2 linked regions of the Homo sapiens genome follow. The protein of the gene in region 1 purifies or fractionates together with the protein of each later gene. This does not show direct contact. Each region holds a gene or a part of one and is shown on either strand. Other genes may lie near its edges.

Region 1 (7,948 bases):
CATTTAGGATCATCCTAGATTGGGCTCATAAACTATTTCTACCAAGCAATGATTTTAGGAGCTTCGCTCCTCACAGTAGGTGTGGTCTGCAAACTGTCTACTATCTTAAAGCCAAGAGGGGAACATCTGGGCCTATGCCATCACACTGCCCAGACTAGGCTTCTGTACTTGCTCATCACTCACTCCAGTTACTTGCTAGAATAGAGCCTAGAGGCCTGATGGTCCCCGCATTTCTGGGGACTTATCCTGCTTCCATTCTCCCACAATGCCCTACCTTCATCAGCCTCAATCTGGATGAATATTTACAAAATGACAAATGCAGCACTCACATATCTGACATCAAGAACCAAGAGTGCCCAATAATCTCCACTGGTTTATATGGCATCCCAATCTCCACCTCCATGAATCAACATCAGGCTAGATGGAATCTGAACTCACTATGTCCCCACAAATGACATGATCTGGACTGCTGGAAGAACGGAGTTCATCTAAATCAATGTGAAGATCCCTCTTATGAGTTTAATTCTACAAATTTGCATATATTTATTCTCTTCCTAGACCTCCCTAGCAGCTATCCACCCAACAGCAAAATATTAAGTGTGCAGAATCAAGGAAACATTAGTGTGCTTCTGCTTCAAGATACTTCAGCCATCCCAGGAGACTTGAAAAAGTAGTGGTAATAGGAGAGATGAAGGAAAAATGAGCAGGTCTGACTAGTAATTTACCTCATCATTTTTAAGAAGAGATGAGTTTATTATCCCAAAAGCAAATGTACCTGATTTTTAAAATTAGCTCTACTTTCACTAATCAATACAATCATAAGTAACGAATCAAAATTGGATAATGAAAATAACTTAATTCCCACAGAGCAGCCATCAAGTAACATGGCAAATTATACTCACTCTCCCAGGAACCAAAGGGATAGTAGCTTCAGCCTTGGTCCTCTCCGCTTCATCATAACTGGGCAGTGTTGTAGCTACATTGTAAGATGGGGGCTTTGGAAACCCAGACTCATCCTTGTAGTCAAAATATGCTGCAGAATTTTAACAGTCACAATTTTTTGATGATTAGCTGAATTGAAATAAAAGGAGTTCCACTAACTCTAGCAGACAAAACCCAGCCATTCCCTTAAGAGTACATACATAACAATTGAACCAAAAGACATTCTTAGATGAATGTAAGAGACTGGGGGTGATTTTTAAATGTATCCACTTCTCAATTATTTAAAATCCAGACTTGCTTTGTAACCTTTCTTCCAACTGCTTCTGAAGCTTTTTTTTTTTTAAACTGTAATGTCAAAGCACAGAGTGTTTTTAAGGATTCCGTGATCACCTTGCCCTGTTACCTACCTGCGCTCTCTGCAGAAATGCTGCTGTAAGGTGGAGGAGCATCACCTGCAGCCTGTTCAGGTTCTCCAGACTCTTCTTCATTCTGCAACTAAATAAAAATTTCATATTTTAATGTAAGCATAAAGCCAATTAGAAAGATAAGAACCCAAAAACTGAAATAAATAGCCTTTCTCGAAAGCTATTTGGCAACGTATTTTGAAAGCCTTGAAATGCACAAATCCTTTAAGAAAAGTATTCTACTCCCAGGAAGTTATTCTATGGAAATATTCAAAGAGGCAAAATGGGTACATATAAGTGTTGTGTCAGCAAAAATTAGAAACAACCTAAATTCCAATCATAGGAGACAAATAAATTATAGTACATCACACAAAGGACTACTAAACGGCCATTAAAAATTAAATTTTGCCATCCTGGCCAACATGGCAAAACCCAATCTCTACTAAAAATACAAAAATTAGCCAGGCATGGTGGCACACTCCTATAGTCCCAGCTGCTCAGGAGGCTGAGGCACAAGAATCGTTTTAACCCGGGAGGCGGAGGTTGCAGTGAGCTGAGATGGTGCCACTGCACTCCAGCCTGGGCAACAGAGTGAAACTCTGTGTCAAAAAAAATATACATTAAATTTCAGCCAGGCATGGTGGCTCACACCTGTAATCCTAGCACTCTGGGAGGCCTAGGTGGGTGGGATCGCTTGAGATTAGGAGAGTTTAGGAGTTCAAGACTAGCCTGGGCAACATGGCAAAACAAACCCTGTCTCTACAAAAAATACAAAAATTACCCGGGAGTGGTGGCATGCACCTGTGGTTCTAGCTACTCAGGAGGCTGAGGCAGCAGGATGGCTTGAACCCAGGAGGTCGTGGCTGCAGCGAGCTAAGATTGTGCCACTGCCCTCCAGCCTGGGGCATGAGAGAGACCATGTCTTTAAAAAAAAAAAAATTAAATTTCATTACTCAAATAGATATTTACAGTGTACTATTATTACATGAAAAAAGCTAAACTTGCCAAACAATAGGCATCATATAATCCTTTTTAAAAAGGCAGACATATAATGGAAAGGAGGCCTAGAATGAGACATTTACAGTTCAACACTGTTATTTCTAGGTAATAGGAGTACAGGGGAATTTTTCCTTTTTGTTGTGTATCTGCATGTTCAAATATTTTGTAGTGAATATTTATCACTTGCATACTTTTTTTTTTTTGGAGAGACAGGATCTCACTCTTGTTGTCCAGGCAGGAGTGCAGTGGCACAATTATGGCACACTGTGACCCTGGCTAACTTTTTTTAAAATTTATGTTTTGTAGAGATGGGGTCTTCCTGTGTTGCCCAGACTGGTTTAAAACTCCTGGCCTCAAGTGATGTATACTTTTTTAAAGTTAGAAAAATAATCTGTTAAGACAAAAGACAAATCACAGACAAACCATGTTACCATTATATTCCACATGCACACCAAATTAAATCTTAAATAATTGAGACACTTATGAAAACATAAAATTCTCCCTAATTCTACATATATCTGTCAATAGATATCCCTTTTCCCTATCTCAGCAACTTTTCTGCCAGTCAAATCTTCAATTTTTTAAAATAACTCGCACTGAAAGTGTCTGCTGTTGCTAGTCTGTATAGTCTACACAAGTCATCTTCATAGAATAAAGACATTTCATTTGGTTTTTCCAGTCCAGTGTGACAATGAACTATATTAATTTAAAACATGAGTTGGCTGGGACTAGGAGCCAATCTGAAAATTAATAACAGAATATTTAGTGATATAACTGACGTAGGGGTCTGGTCCTGGCTTCGGTATCATCAGGATATACAGAGCCAACTGACATACTTGTAAAATACATACCACCTCTAAACCATACCGCTACAAAGAACTCTATCTTGAATTGAGACAGAAAAACAGAGAGACCGAGGTGTACTAATGTGAAGTAGAGCTCCATAATCCATTAAATTTTCTTTCTTTCTTTTTTTTTTTTTTTTTTTGAGATGTAGTTTCGCTTTTGTTGCCCAGGCTGGAGAGCAATGGTGGGATCTCGGCTCACTGAAACCTCCACCTCCCAGGTTCAAGCAATTCTGTTGCCTCAGACTCCAAGTAGCTGGGACTACAGGCGTATGCCACCAGACCTGGCTAATTTTTGTATTTTTAGTAGACGTGGGCCAGGCTCGTCTCAAACTCCCGACCTCAGGTGATATGCCTGCCTTAGCCTCCCAAAGTGCTGGAATTACAGGCGTGAGCCATTGTGCCCGGCCACAATCCATTAAATTTTAACTGATCATCTCAATCTCCACTCACTATGCTGTTCAAAACCAGATGTCAATAAATTTTTCTGACTAATACTACAAAAGCTTCAATTTCAAATGAATTCTTGTGTCAAATTCTCATCAGCATCTACCATCTGGGTACATTTTTTCGAATCCTAGTAATCTAATGTTAAACTTAAGGTACTCCCAAAATAGCTGTATTATAACCTAAGATAATTTTTCCTTTTAAACAAAGACATGTGGCCAAAATAGGTGCAGTAAAGCCAAATGCTCCTGGGACACCGAACTAGGAATTACTTAAATAGAGTTCTTGGGACCATGGTTCACCTAAAATACTGGTTTTAACATTATTTGAAGCTCTTGGCAAGGTATTCTTAGCCTCCTCACACCTAACCACTCTTGTGCTGTGGGAAGGTCACCAAAAGAAGCAGAAGAGTCAGCAGCAAGAACAAAGGCAAATACAGACTTTTCGAATATGTTCCCTTAATATACTGTAGCCAGTAATGAACTTCATTTAAACCTAGCTTGGTTTATACTTAACCCGTTTTATATTTCCTGAGCTTGGTGTCAAAGTAATCACGTTACCCCTGCATAATTTAGGTCTCAGAAAGGAAGCATGACAATTCTAAGAAATACAGAAATCCAAAGAACAAAGAGGTTAAGAGGTCTTCTATGACAATATTTATAAGATAGGCTGCCTGTCTCCTGGAAACTTGGAAATGTTAAATTTGATCATCCCCCACCATAGTAAAAGATGACAGTGCAAATAAATTCCAGCCTTCTTAGAACCACCAATTTTCACTTTGGTAAGGAAAAAAACACTTCCAGGTGAAGAGTTTGCTCCACTAAAATTCACTACTTTAGAATAGTGTACTTTTTTCAATTGAAAAATAAAAACAATTTAAAACACCATTATGACTATGGTATAATCCCAAGACCTCACTGTACAGGCTTCTCACTCTGGCTTATTTCTATAATGCTGGTGATAAGATTAGGCTCCATCAAGAAAGCTGTTTAAAACAAAACACTGCAATGTAGGGGGATCGCGGGGAGAGGCAATCACCTTCAAAAAGAGTAAGCACTTAGTGCCTGCCATCTGCATGCATAATAACTTGCTGAACAATGGAATCCTTAAATATACATCTTTTTACACTTCAGGGGCAACAAGTCAGGCATTCACTAACAAGTGGAGGAACCATGTGCGCTAGAACTAGAGTGTGCTATAAAATTGATTACTTGGTTCCAAAATTTATTTTTAAGATTCCCCTTTTCCACCCCTGGGAACCCTTCTGTGCAGCCTCCCTGCCATGTCCCTGGAGCTCAGGGATCTTCGGGCTCTTTCCTGACACTTTCTGAAAGAATACGCGGCATTGTCACGTTTGGGTTAGAGTTGGAAAGATGCTCAGTCTCTTCCATCAACTGGGTCAGTGGAAGCCCGAGTCCAATTTAACTGTCACAGAATCTGGGTTGTAGGGGATACTCAGAGAGACAGATCTGAAAACTGGGACAGATCTGGGAACTTCTGCTCTCAGTGCACAGAGATGTTGGGCAAGGGTAGGGGGGATATCCTTTGAGTGACTGTGATAGATAATAAATAGCTGTTGGACACTGGATTTTTTTTCCTGTCATATAATTTCTGACCAATTTTACTAAACTTCAAATATGATTTATTTTTTTGAGACAGAATCTCACTCTGTCACCCAGGCTGGAGTGCAGTGGTACCATCTTGGCTCACTGCAACCTCTGCCTCCTGGGTTCAAGTGATTCTTCCGCCTCAGCCTCCCAAGTAGTTGGGATTACAGGCATGCACCACCATACCTGGCTAATTTTTGTATTTTTAGTAGAGATGGGGTTGTGCCATGTTGGCCAGGTTGGTACCAAACTCCTGACCTCAAGTGATCCGCCTGCCTCAGCCTCCCAAAGCGCTGGGATTATAGGCGTGAGCCACCATACCCGGCTGAAATATGATTTAAATGGCATTTTTTCCAAATACAGCTATACAATTACCTACACAGGCCATACAAAGTAGAGTTTAATACAGAACTACCTATAACTACCTATGCCTCCATCGCTAAGAAATAAATAATCCAATCACCTGAGAATTCAGATGACCTTTCACTTTCTCACACCCAGAGTGTGCCATTACTCTTTTCCTGATTACCTTTGCTCCCTTCTATGTGCTGAGCAGACTAGAATGGCTCCCCAGAAGAACCCTAAAACTCTTCCTACTTCAGATATGTCACAATCTGCCATGGTGCCTTTGGCCTTGATGACCTTCAATTTTAAGAAAACATTTATTTACAAATAGGTGCTACTAAGGTTTTGTTCTCAAGTCACACCTGTAATCCCAGCACTTTGGGAGGCTGAGGTGGGCGGATCACTTGAGGTCAGGAGTTTGAGACCAGCCTGGCCAACATGGTAAAATCTCGTCTCTACTAAAAATACAAAAATCAACCAGGTGTGGTGGCATGCACCTGTAGTCCCAACTACTCGGGAGGCTTAGGCACGAGAATCACTTGATCCGGGGAGGTGGAGGTTACAGTAAGCTGAGATCAAGCCACTGCACTTCAGCCTGGGCGACAAAGTGAGATTCTGTCTCAAAAATAAATAAATAAATAAAATAAAATAGAGCGTTTTTTTTTCCCTCCTTATCACCTTCCTCTGTATCTAGGTCCTATTGTTATTAAAAATAAATATGACATTTTTATGAATCTCCAACACAGAAATCATATATAGTTCTAATTCTAATAGAAACAAACTTGAATTTAACACGTTTAAGACATTATACCCTACAGATTTAAACTATTATTTGAGTTCCCAATCAGCAAGAAAGCTTCACCACCGCCCTCCTCACTAAGCAGTTCTAAAATGAGTTGTTTTTAAGCAATAGCAGAGCTGGGGCTAGGATTAGGGCTAAGCAAGGGGCAACATTTATAACTGTAGCAAATGGCAGGACCTAAAGGCACTTAAAAGTCATTCTTGGATTATCTATATTTACTAAGAATGAGAGAACAACAAAAAACCCTACACTAAACAAAACCCATAAATCCTTATATATGAGAAAAGGTATCAACATACACCTCAGAATTCATACAAACAAACAAACAAAGCACGTGAAAAATAATGCTGAAGTATCCAGTAAGTCCATAAAGTTGCAAGTATTTTCACTACTTAATTTTTTCTTGGTTTGGTCATATTTAAACAGCAAGAAAATTCTTGTAAGTTTCAAGTCCCTTCTTTAAGTTATTAAAAATAAATATCAGAAAATTCTGGGTCAATGCTTGAACTCTAGTTTTGAATGTTATTTACTACTTCTATCTTAGAGTTAATTGCTAAAACTTTTACCTTAAAATGCAATTTTTAAAGCTCTCATTACCAACCCACTACTTCTGCATAGTCCCTAAATCCTACCAAAACAAGGCAGTATAATTACAAAAAGTAAACAAGCACATTTCTTTTGGTAAACAGCTGAGTATGCTATTTTACTGCTGTTCAGAAATAATCATTAAGTTTGTGTGGCCTGTACATTTACTTTATATATTGTAAATATAAACTCTGTTATTCTAACATCACCAAATTATTTACATTCAAGAAAAATTCTCTATCTAATTGTTATTAATTAGGGGAAGATATTTTAAATAATTCTGACAAGATAAGAGAGACTAAACAATAAAAAGGCAACCCAATTATAAAATGGGCAAATGATTTGAACAGACATTTCTCCAAAGAAGATATACAAAAGGCCAGTAGACACAAAATGCTCAACATCATTAAGTCAGCAGGAAAACGCAAATCAAAACCAAGACTCAATACCACTTCATGCTTACTAGGATGGCTATAATAAAAAAGACAGACAATAACAAGTGCTGAGTATGTGGAGAAACGGGAACTCTAATACACTGCTGGTGGGAATGTAAAATGGTACAGCTGCTGTGGAAAAGTTTGGCAGTTCCTCAAAATAAGTTAAACATAGGCTGAAAACACAGTGGCTCAGCCTGCAATCCCAGCACTTTGGGAGGCTGAGGCAGGAGGATCACTTGAGGCCAGGAGTCTGAGACCAGCCTGGGCAACACAGCAAGATCCTGTCTCTACTAAAAATTTAAAAATTAGCCAGGCATGGCGGCACACCTGTGATCCAGCTACTCAAGACGCTGAGACAGGAGGATCACTTTAGCCAAGGAGTTCAAGGCTGCAGTGAGTCCAGTCTAGTCTGTTGCTCAGTCTGAGCAACAGAGTGAGATCCTGTCTCAAACAAAAACAGCAACACAGATTTATATTAACATCAAGCAATTCCACTCCAAGGTATATACCCAAGAGAACTGAAAACAAGTTCACA
Region 2 (7,668 bases), on another chromosome or scaffold:
ATAATTTGGTATAATTAAAATAACTGAAAAGGTAGGTATAAGGAAAATTTCTCAGCCTTTAAAAATCCATTACATTTTGATAAATAAAACTTGCATACTCATTCTGTAGTTTGTATAATAAAAAATGTATTGCATTTTCCAATTTTTTTTTAACATATAGCCTGGTTAAGAATCATGCATATCCTTGTCTCTCCGAAGGATAAACTGAGCTGGCCCTTGGGCAACTACTTAAGAATTTAGTGTTGGAATGATAGCAGCAAATGTCAGCTTTTCAAAGATCCCACCCTAATCCAGTTCTAAGGTTAGGTCAGGAAGGAAAAAATAATTCCATCTTTCAAATACACATGAAACAAAGTCTTTTCCAACCAACGGTTGAGTCATAAACACAGTCTGTGCAACGGCACATACTTTTGGCTATGTTCACACAGTAAACCATAGAAACACACTGGCTCTGATGGCTACCTGCAGAAGACAGACTAATCCAGTGTTATTTAACGTAGCCACGGGTGGCTTCTTCTGTCAGCAGGCCTTTAGAGATGCTTACCGTATGCCCACAGTCCAGGAAGGACATGCCCAGTGCAATCAAACATTGCCAACCCTGAAAGACAAAATATGGTCATCACTCACCAGGCTCTTTGAAGAGCCATGACTGCTCACACAGCACTTCTCAAATGCAAACCTGCTCCCTTCCTTGAACATCCAGCTGTGCCCATCTTCTACCACCAAGGGTTGCACAAGTCATTCTCTCAACCCCACTCCCCCTTCAAAAAATCAGCTGCCTTCCTCAACAAAGTTTGTCCATACTATTTTAAATATTGAATTTCTCTGTTCTTACTGCTTTGTGTCTGTGGTTTTCCTTTTTTTTAAAATCTTTATTATTATTTTACATTTTAGAGACAAGGTCTCCCTCTATTGCTCAGGCTGGAGTATAGTGGTGCAATCATAGCTCACTGAAGCCTCGAATTCCTGGGCTCAAGCAATCCTCTCTCCTCAGCCTCCTGAGTTGCCAGGATTACAGACGCACACCACCATGCCCAGCTAATTTATTTTTTTTTGTAGAGACAAGGTGTCTTGCTATATTTCTCAAGCTGGTCTGAAACTCCTAACCTCAAGCAATCCTCCTGGCTCGGCCTCCCAAAGCACTGAAATTACAAGCGTGAGCCACCTCGTCCAGCCTGTTGTTTGTTTCTTTTACCCAACTGTAAGTTCTCGGAAGTCCACTTTTCCTCAGTCCTCCCCATGATAAGAATGACTAACAGACTAATACAATTGGTGTAGTCTCCTAAGCTGCTCTATGAAGTTCCTGTTTTGAAGTTAAACAACAGTAACCCACTCTAGAATCAGCCCTCTCCTCTCAAAATGGGTCTTCAAGCCAGACACGGTGGCTCATGCCTGTAATCCCAACACTTCAGGAGGCTGAGGCAGGTGGATCACCTGAGGTCAAGAGTTTGAGACCAGCCTGGCCAACATGGCAAAACCCCATCTCTACTAAAAATACAAAAATTAGCCAGGCATGGTTAGCACATGGCTGTAGTCCCAACTACTCAGGAGGCTAAGGCAGGCGAATCACTTGAACCCAGGAGGCAGAGGTTGCAGTGAGCTAAGATCATGCCACTATACCCTAGCTTGGGCGATAGAGAAAAACTCTGTCTCAAAAATAATAATAATAATGGGTCTTCAACAAGCTCATTAGCCTTAGGCTGACTGAGGACAAACTGGCATCTTCATATCCAATTTGCATTCTGAAAGGATCCCCCTAACTTCTATAGTGAATTTTTAAAAACAATTCCTGTCAAGGACACATTCAGTTACTTGGTTTTCCTTGAAGTTAAGTTCCTAGATCATAGGGTCAGTACAGTCTTTGTGTGCACAAAGTTTATTGGGAAGAAAAAAAGAAGAGATCTAGGAAATAATTTTTCAACATTTACTGAAGTGATTTTCTTAATAAAGTATCTAATGTGTGGCACACTGGTGTGGGGAAGTGTTCTAGAGATTAACAGCAGGTTTCCAGCCTCCATCTGTAGCCATTCTCTGCAGCAAAAATGGTATAAATTCTACTATTCCTTATCCCTAACCCCTGTGTCTTTTCAAAGAAACCTGTATAGAACAGGGAAATGGATCTGTTGTTATTTTGGCTGTTTTTCATTAATATAAGCAATGCTAAAGAAGATTTGGAAAATAGAGAAGAATATATCTATAATCCTAGCTTCCTACAACAACTATATTGCCATTTTTATATAATTCTAGACTTCTTAAAAAATTTTTTATAATTGAAATATAAATTTTACATACCTTTTTCATGTAGCTATAGTTTTATAACCATGATTTTTAAAAAATGACTCTAGAATGAGAGAGTCAAGGGGAGACTATCACTATTTAATTATTTCCTTGGACAGCTAGTAAGTGATGGAGCTGAGTGGGGCTGTGTGCCACATGTGTCCCACCCCGAATCTCTAAATCACACTGCATGCCCTATTCTCCACCTCTGTTTTGTACCGTTCTCCACTCTCTGTACTGCTACCCTTCTTTTAGTTCCTCAAACATACTATACTCTCTTGTTAGGAATTACTAAGAATGGAAACTACAGAAGTGACAGAAATTGAAAAATGACAAATCTTAGTAACCAAAGTGAATTTTATGGTTAGAAATATTATTTTGTAAACAGCTGATTTGACAATTCCATATACATTGTCTCGATCACCTGGAGGTAGATTGTTATGTGCTCTTTTGGGTCTGTTCATTTCTCTTTTTTTGTAGAGATGGAGTCTTACTATGTTGCCCAGATTGGTCTCTAACTCCTGGATTCAAGCAATCCTCCCGCCTCAGCCTCCCAAAGTACTGGGATTATAGGCATGAGCCACTGTGCCCAGCCTGGGTCTGTTCATTTCTGAATGTCAGTGAACCCCACCTCAACCATCCCTGATACCTATGCCCCTGCTCTTCCAGGCTAGACTTACCAAGTAGAACACAAAGCCCAGATAAGCCACGCTGACCACAGCAGCCACCACATATAATGCCACATGCCCTAGGTCCCGGACATAAACCACTACAAAGTACATATTGATGGAACAGATGATAAGGACCAAGATTCCTCCTGCAATCCGCCAGCCTCTGTAAAAGAAATCAGCACAGTCACTGATGGAATAATCCAACTTGGCCACAGACAGAAAAGGAAACAGGATGGGAATTAGAGGCAGTTCAAAATGAATGGAAAAATTGTTCTTAATTTGAAAAAAAATGATTCTTCATAAGTCTAAGTTAAATCACCCAAAGTTAGATACTGGTAGACAGGGAGAAAGAGGGGGGAAAAGACACCAACAAATAATCCCTAATATTTAAGTCCCTAGAGATGCAACAAGGCCTAGAAACGCAATGAGCCATTTTATTAACGTTCCCAAAAATGCAACAAGTCACTTCAGATACCTCATATCCTTTAAAGATATATATAAAAGGTACTAACTTATGCCTTTTTTGTTAAGATCATTTAACAAAGAATTAAGGTGCCTCAAACTTCAGTGGCTGAAGCTGAAGAGTTATGCTGTAAAAGCTGAACTTTCTCTCCCCTTCATATGAAAGACGTGCTTTCTCTTCCTTTACTATATTCACAGTTTCCATTCTCTAAGCCAAAGAGGAAGCAGCTAGCAATCACCTCTCAAAGCATATCGCTTCCCTCTGTGTCTCACGTCTGACTGGCCTACTGCATGAAGATACCCTTTCCCCATATCAGCATCCCCTTTGGGAACGAAGAGGAGTACACTCACAGTCCATTGGCAAAGTCACTCATTACTGGCCGCAAGCTCGTAAATGTGAGGATGGGTATGAGAGCAAAGGGAAGCTGGAAAAGAAAGAAGATCAGATGGGATTACTATGGGTCCTTGTATCACCCTAGAGAACAGCACAATTAATGAAAGGGAAACATAAATGCTGCCTCAACTACTCCATGAGAAATAATTATTCCTATCATCCCAACATGCTTGGGCATTATGCTGAATTCTGCAGAGCTGTCATTAACCTAGCATACAAACCTTTGTATGTGACTTGTCTTCTTAACCTCCACAGGACCTAGCACAGTGTCCTATATGTTCATTTAATGTTTGCTTGCATTAATGAACTACAATTTTGTGTCCCATATGTAAGTAAAGTTCATAGTTCCCATTCAACAGGTTTAAAAAACCAACCATTTCTAAAATCCTTTTAGATGCCAAGGATTTCATATACATTTACTGCAGACCACAACCATGCCTCTGTCTTCCTCTCAATATCCCCCCAGCACTCAGCTAGGCTTGGTACCCAAGGGCAGTACATAATGCTACCTGAATAACTAGGATGTGTTTCCTCAGCTTCCTCCTCACCTGTAAGCTCTGTAGAACATTCAGAAAGTCATTCATCCCTGTTAGATGCTCTACATCTTGGAAGACAGCAACAAGCAGAGTGGGGATGATGGCAATAGAGCGAGTCAGAACCACTCGGGCAAAGCGTGACCACTTTAGGTTCAGGAATCCCTGGAAGAAAACATAGGAGCAGATGACTGTCTGCAACAGGAAACAAAAAAAAGTTTTGGGGAGGTTCAGGAGAGACCTCAGAAGAATGGGATTAAGAAGTGACAAAAGGGGCCAGGCGCAGTGGCTCACGCCTGTAATCCCAGCACTTTGAGAGGCCAAGGCGGGTAGATCACTTGAGGTCAGGAGTTCAAGACCTGCCTGGCCAACATGGTGAAACGCCATCTCTACTAAAAATACAAAAAATTAGCCGAGTATGGTGGCCAGAGCCTGTAATCCTAGCTACTCGGGAGGCTGAGTCAGGAGAATCACTTGAACCCGGGAGGTGGAGGTTGCAGTGAGCCGAGATCATGCCATTACACTCCAACTTGGGCGACGAGTGAGACTCCATCTCAAAAAAAAAAAAAAAAGAAGAAGAAGAAGAAGTAACAAAAGGGTTGTGTTATCTCCCTCTATCCTATACCAGCACGTACCTCCATGACAAACTGGCCAGAATAGGTTCCTGTCATGGTGGAGCTCTGTCCTGCAGCCAGGATCCCCACTGCCCAAATGTAGAGTGCAGCAGGCCCAAAGTAACATCCCAGCACAACACCCTGTGAGAGGCCAAGAGGAAGGATATGATTGTGGCAATAATCTGCTCAGACAATATCCAAAACAGCAGTTCCCTGTGGCATTTCTCCCTTCTTTGCTATGCACCACCAACACCAAGTGCTGTGCTGCGCACTGTGCCAGAAGCTAGGCTCAAGTCTGGACCTCATTCCAGAAGCTTTCAGTCTAAACTTTACTGGATGCTCCTTCGTTTCTCTGCCTAGTCCTTTCTCTTCTCCAAGCTCCTAAACCTCCATCTTAAATATTAAAAAAAAAAAAAAAAAAAAAGAGGTCTACACCACTTTCCCCAAATTATATTCCTTTACACACTATTCTGGAAAATGGCAATAGAAGTACAGGGAAATATCAAATAAATTGGTGAAATGCTACACACTATATATTCTACTGTTGGAGGATCACAATGTAACCAGCATAAAAGAACTGAGAGACTCCAGTAAAAACACTTTACTAAGAACACTTTCTTGGGGCTGGGTAGGGTGGCTCACGCTTGTAATCCCAGCACTTTGGGAGGCCAGGGTTGGAGAATCCCTTGAGCCCAGGAGTTTGAGACAAGCCTAGGCAACATGGCAAATACCCTGACTCTACAAAAAAAATACAAGGCCAGGCATGGTGGCTCACACCTGTAATCCCAGCACTTTGGGAGGCCGAGGGGGGGGTGGATCACCTGAGGTCAGGAGTTCGAGACCAGCCTGACCAACATGGAGAGACCCCCATCTCTACTAAAAATACAAAATTAGCCAGGTGTGGTGGTACACACCTGTAATCCTATCTACTTGGGAGGCTGAGGCAGGAGAAGCACTTGAACCCGGAAGGCAGAGATTGCAGTGAGCCAAGATCACGCCAGTGCACTCCAGCCTGGGCAACAAGAACAAAACTCCATCTCAAAAAGAAAAAAAAAATAGCCAAGCATGGTGGTGCTTGCCTGCAGTCCCATTACCCAAAAGACTGAGATGGGAAAATCACTTGGACCAGGTAGGTGGAGGCTGCAGTGAGCCATGATCGAGCCACTGTACCCCAGCCTGGGCAACAGAGCAAGACCTTGTCTCCAAAAAAAAAAAAAAAAAAAAAAAAAGCTGGGGTGTATACTGCATCTTTTTTTTCCTTTTTTTTTTAAAGACAGAGTCTTATTCTGTCGCCCAGGCTGGAGTGCAGTGGCCCAATCTCGGCTCACTGCAACCTCTGCCTTCCAGGTTCAAGCGATTCTCGTGTCTCAGCCTCCTGAGTAGCTGAGATTACAGGTGCCCACCACCACATCCAGCTAATTTTTGTATTTTTGTTTTTAGTAGAGACAGGGTTTCACCATGTTGGTCAGGCTGGTCTTGAACTCCTGAGCTCAAGTGATCCACCCGCCTCAGCCTCCCAAAGTGCTGGGATTACAGGCGTGAACCACCGCACCCGGCCTGTATTATATATCTTTTCAACTGATCCTCTATTCCTTCCCATTTAATCCAAAATGCTTGTCTGGTGTCTGGAACTCTGAAATAAATGACACTCCAGAGGAGATATGCTCATATCTGAAGTGAAGTCACAAAAAAGACCACATACTATGCTAAAAATACTGATTCAGGAACAAAGATCACAAATCCAAACATGCTTACCCCTTTGTAGATGTCCACAGCCAGTGTCGAGTTATCTTTAGGAAAGAGGCCAGCATGAGGACTGCTGGTATTTGTACAGACTTCAACCTAGAACCCAAAGCAATTCAACAGCAACTTTTGTTTCAGAAGCAAGGACCAAATAAGAGCTCTCCTACATATCATACACAATCATCTATAAGAGGTAGGCTGGAGGGAAAACACTGGACATATGCTGTGATGTGGGCAGAGACTAGCAGCAATGTTATCTAGGATCTTCCTCTATAATCCTTCTACACCCACAGGTCATCAAAAATCTTTACTGAGTTACAGTGTGCATGGTAATAATGTACAAACGCTGGGGTACTTTAAATGATGACAAGAGGAGAGGCTCTGAAGAAGGCTTCAGACATGAGAGAACACCCAGAATAGAATCCTCAGTCAAAGCAGACAGAGGAGTCAGAGGTTCCATAGACGGGAAACAAATGGTGATCAAAACTACACAGGCAGGCCAGGCACAGGAGCTCACGCCTGTAATCCCTGTACTTTGAGAGGCCGAGGCAGGTGGATCACTTGAGGTCAGGAGTTTGAGACCAGCCTGGCCAACATGGTGAAACCCCATCTCTACTAAAATTACAAAAAATTAGCTGGGTGTGGTGGCAGGCACCTGTAATCCCAGCTACTCAGGAGGCTGAGGCAGGAGAATCGCTTGAACCCAGGAGGTGGAGGCAGTGAGCCAAGACTGTGCCACTGCACTCCAGCTTGGATGACAGTGCAAGACTCCGTCTCAAAAAAAACACTACATAGGTAATCAGAAATCAAGATTGATACAGAATTCAAAATGACAAGACAAAGTCTGTCATCATCACAGTTTCTGTTTTCTGTTTGTTGACTACTCCCAAACAAAAGCTGAGAAAGAGGGTCCAGGCTTGGTCAGCCCCATACTGTAGACTCTGACTGGTGCACAGTGATTTTGGGGGGCAGAC

The links. The genes of interacting proteins can lie anywhere in the genome.
Region 2: the proteins of NDFIP1 (region 1) and SLC11A2 purify together in Homo sapiens (affinity purification with western blotting; 2 studies listed by BioGRID and IntAct, with this or other methods). This does not show direct contact.

Annotation. Positions count from the first base shown.
Region 1 is NC_000005.10:142,125,297-142,133,244, reverse strand, and holds part of NDFIP1 (NEDD4 family-interacting protein 1), read right to left. Parts: intron 1,438-7,948; coding exon 1,350-1,437; intron 1,034-1,349; coding exon 903-1,033; intron 1-902. UniProt on the Homo sapiens protein: Activates HECT domain-containing E3 ubiquitin-protein ligases, including NEDD4 and ITCH, and consequently modulates the stability of their targets. As a result, controls many cellular processes.
Region 2 is NC_000012.12:50,987,838-50,995,505, forward strand, and holds part of SLC11A2 (natural resistance-associated macrophage protein 2), read right to left. Parts: intron 6,794-7,668; coding exon 6,707-6,793; intron 5,093-6,706; coding exon 4,973-5,092; intron 4,503-4,972; coding exon 4,353-4,502; intron 3,836-4,352; coding exon 3,762-3,835; intron 3,112-3,761; coding exon 2,958-3,111; intron 599-2,957; coding exon 488-598; 3' UTR 1-487. UniProt on the Homo sapiens protein: Proton-coupled metal ion symporter operating with a proton to metal ion stoichiometry of 1:1. Selectively transports various divalent metal cations, in decreasing affinity: Cd(2+) > Fe(2+) > Co(2+), Mn(2+) >> Zn(2+), Ni(2+), VO(2+).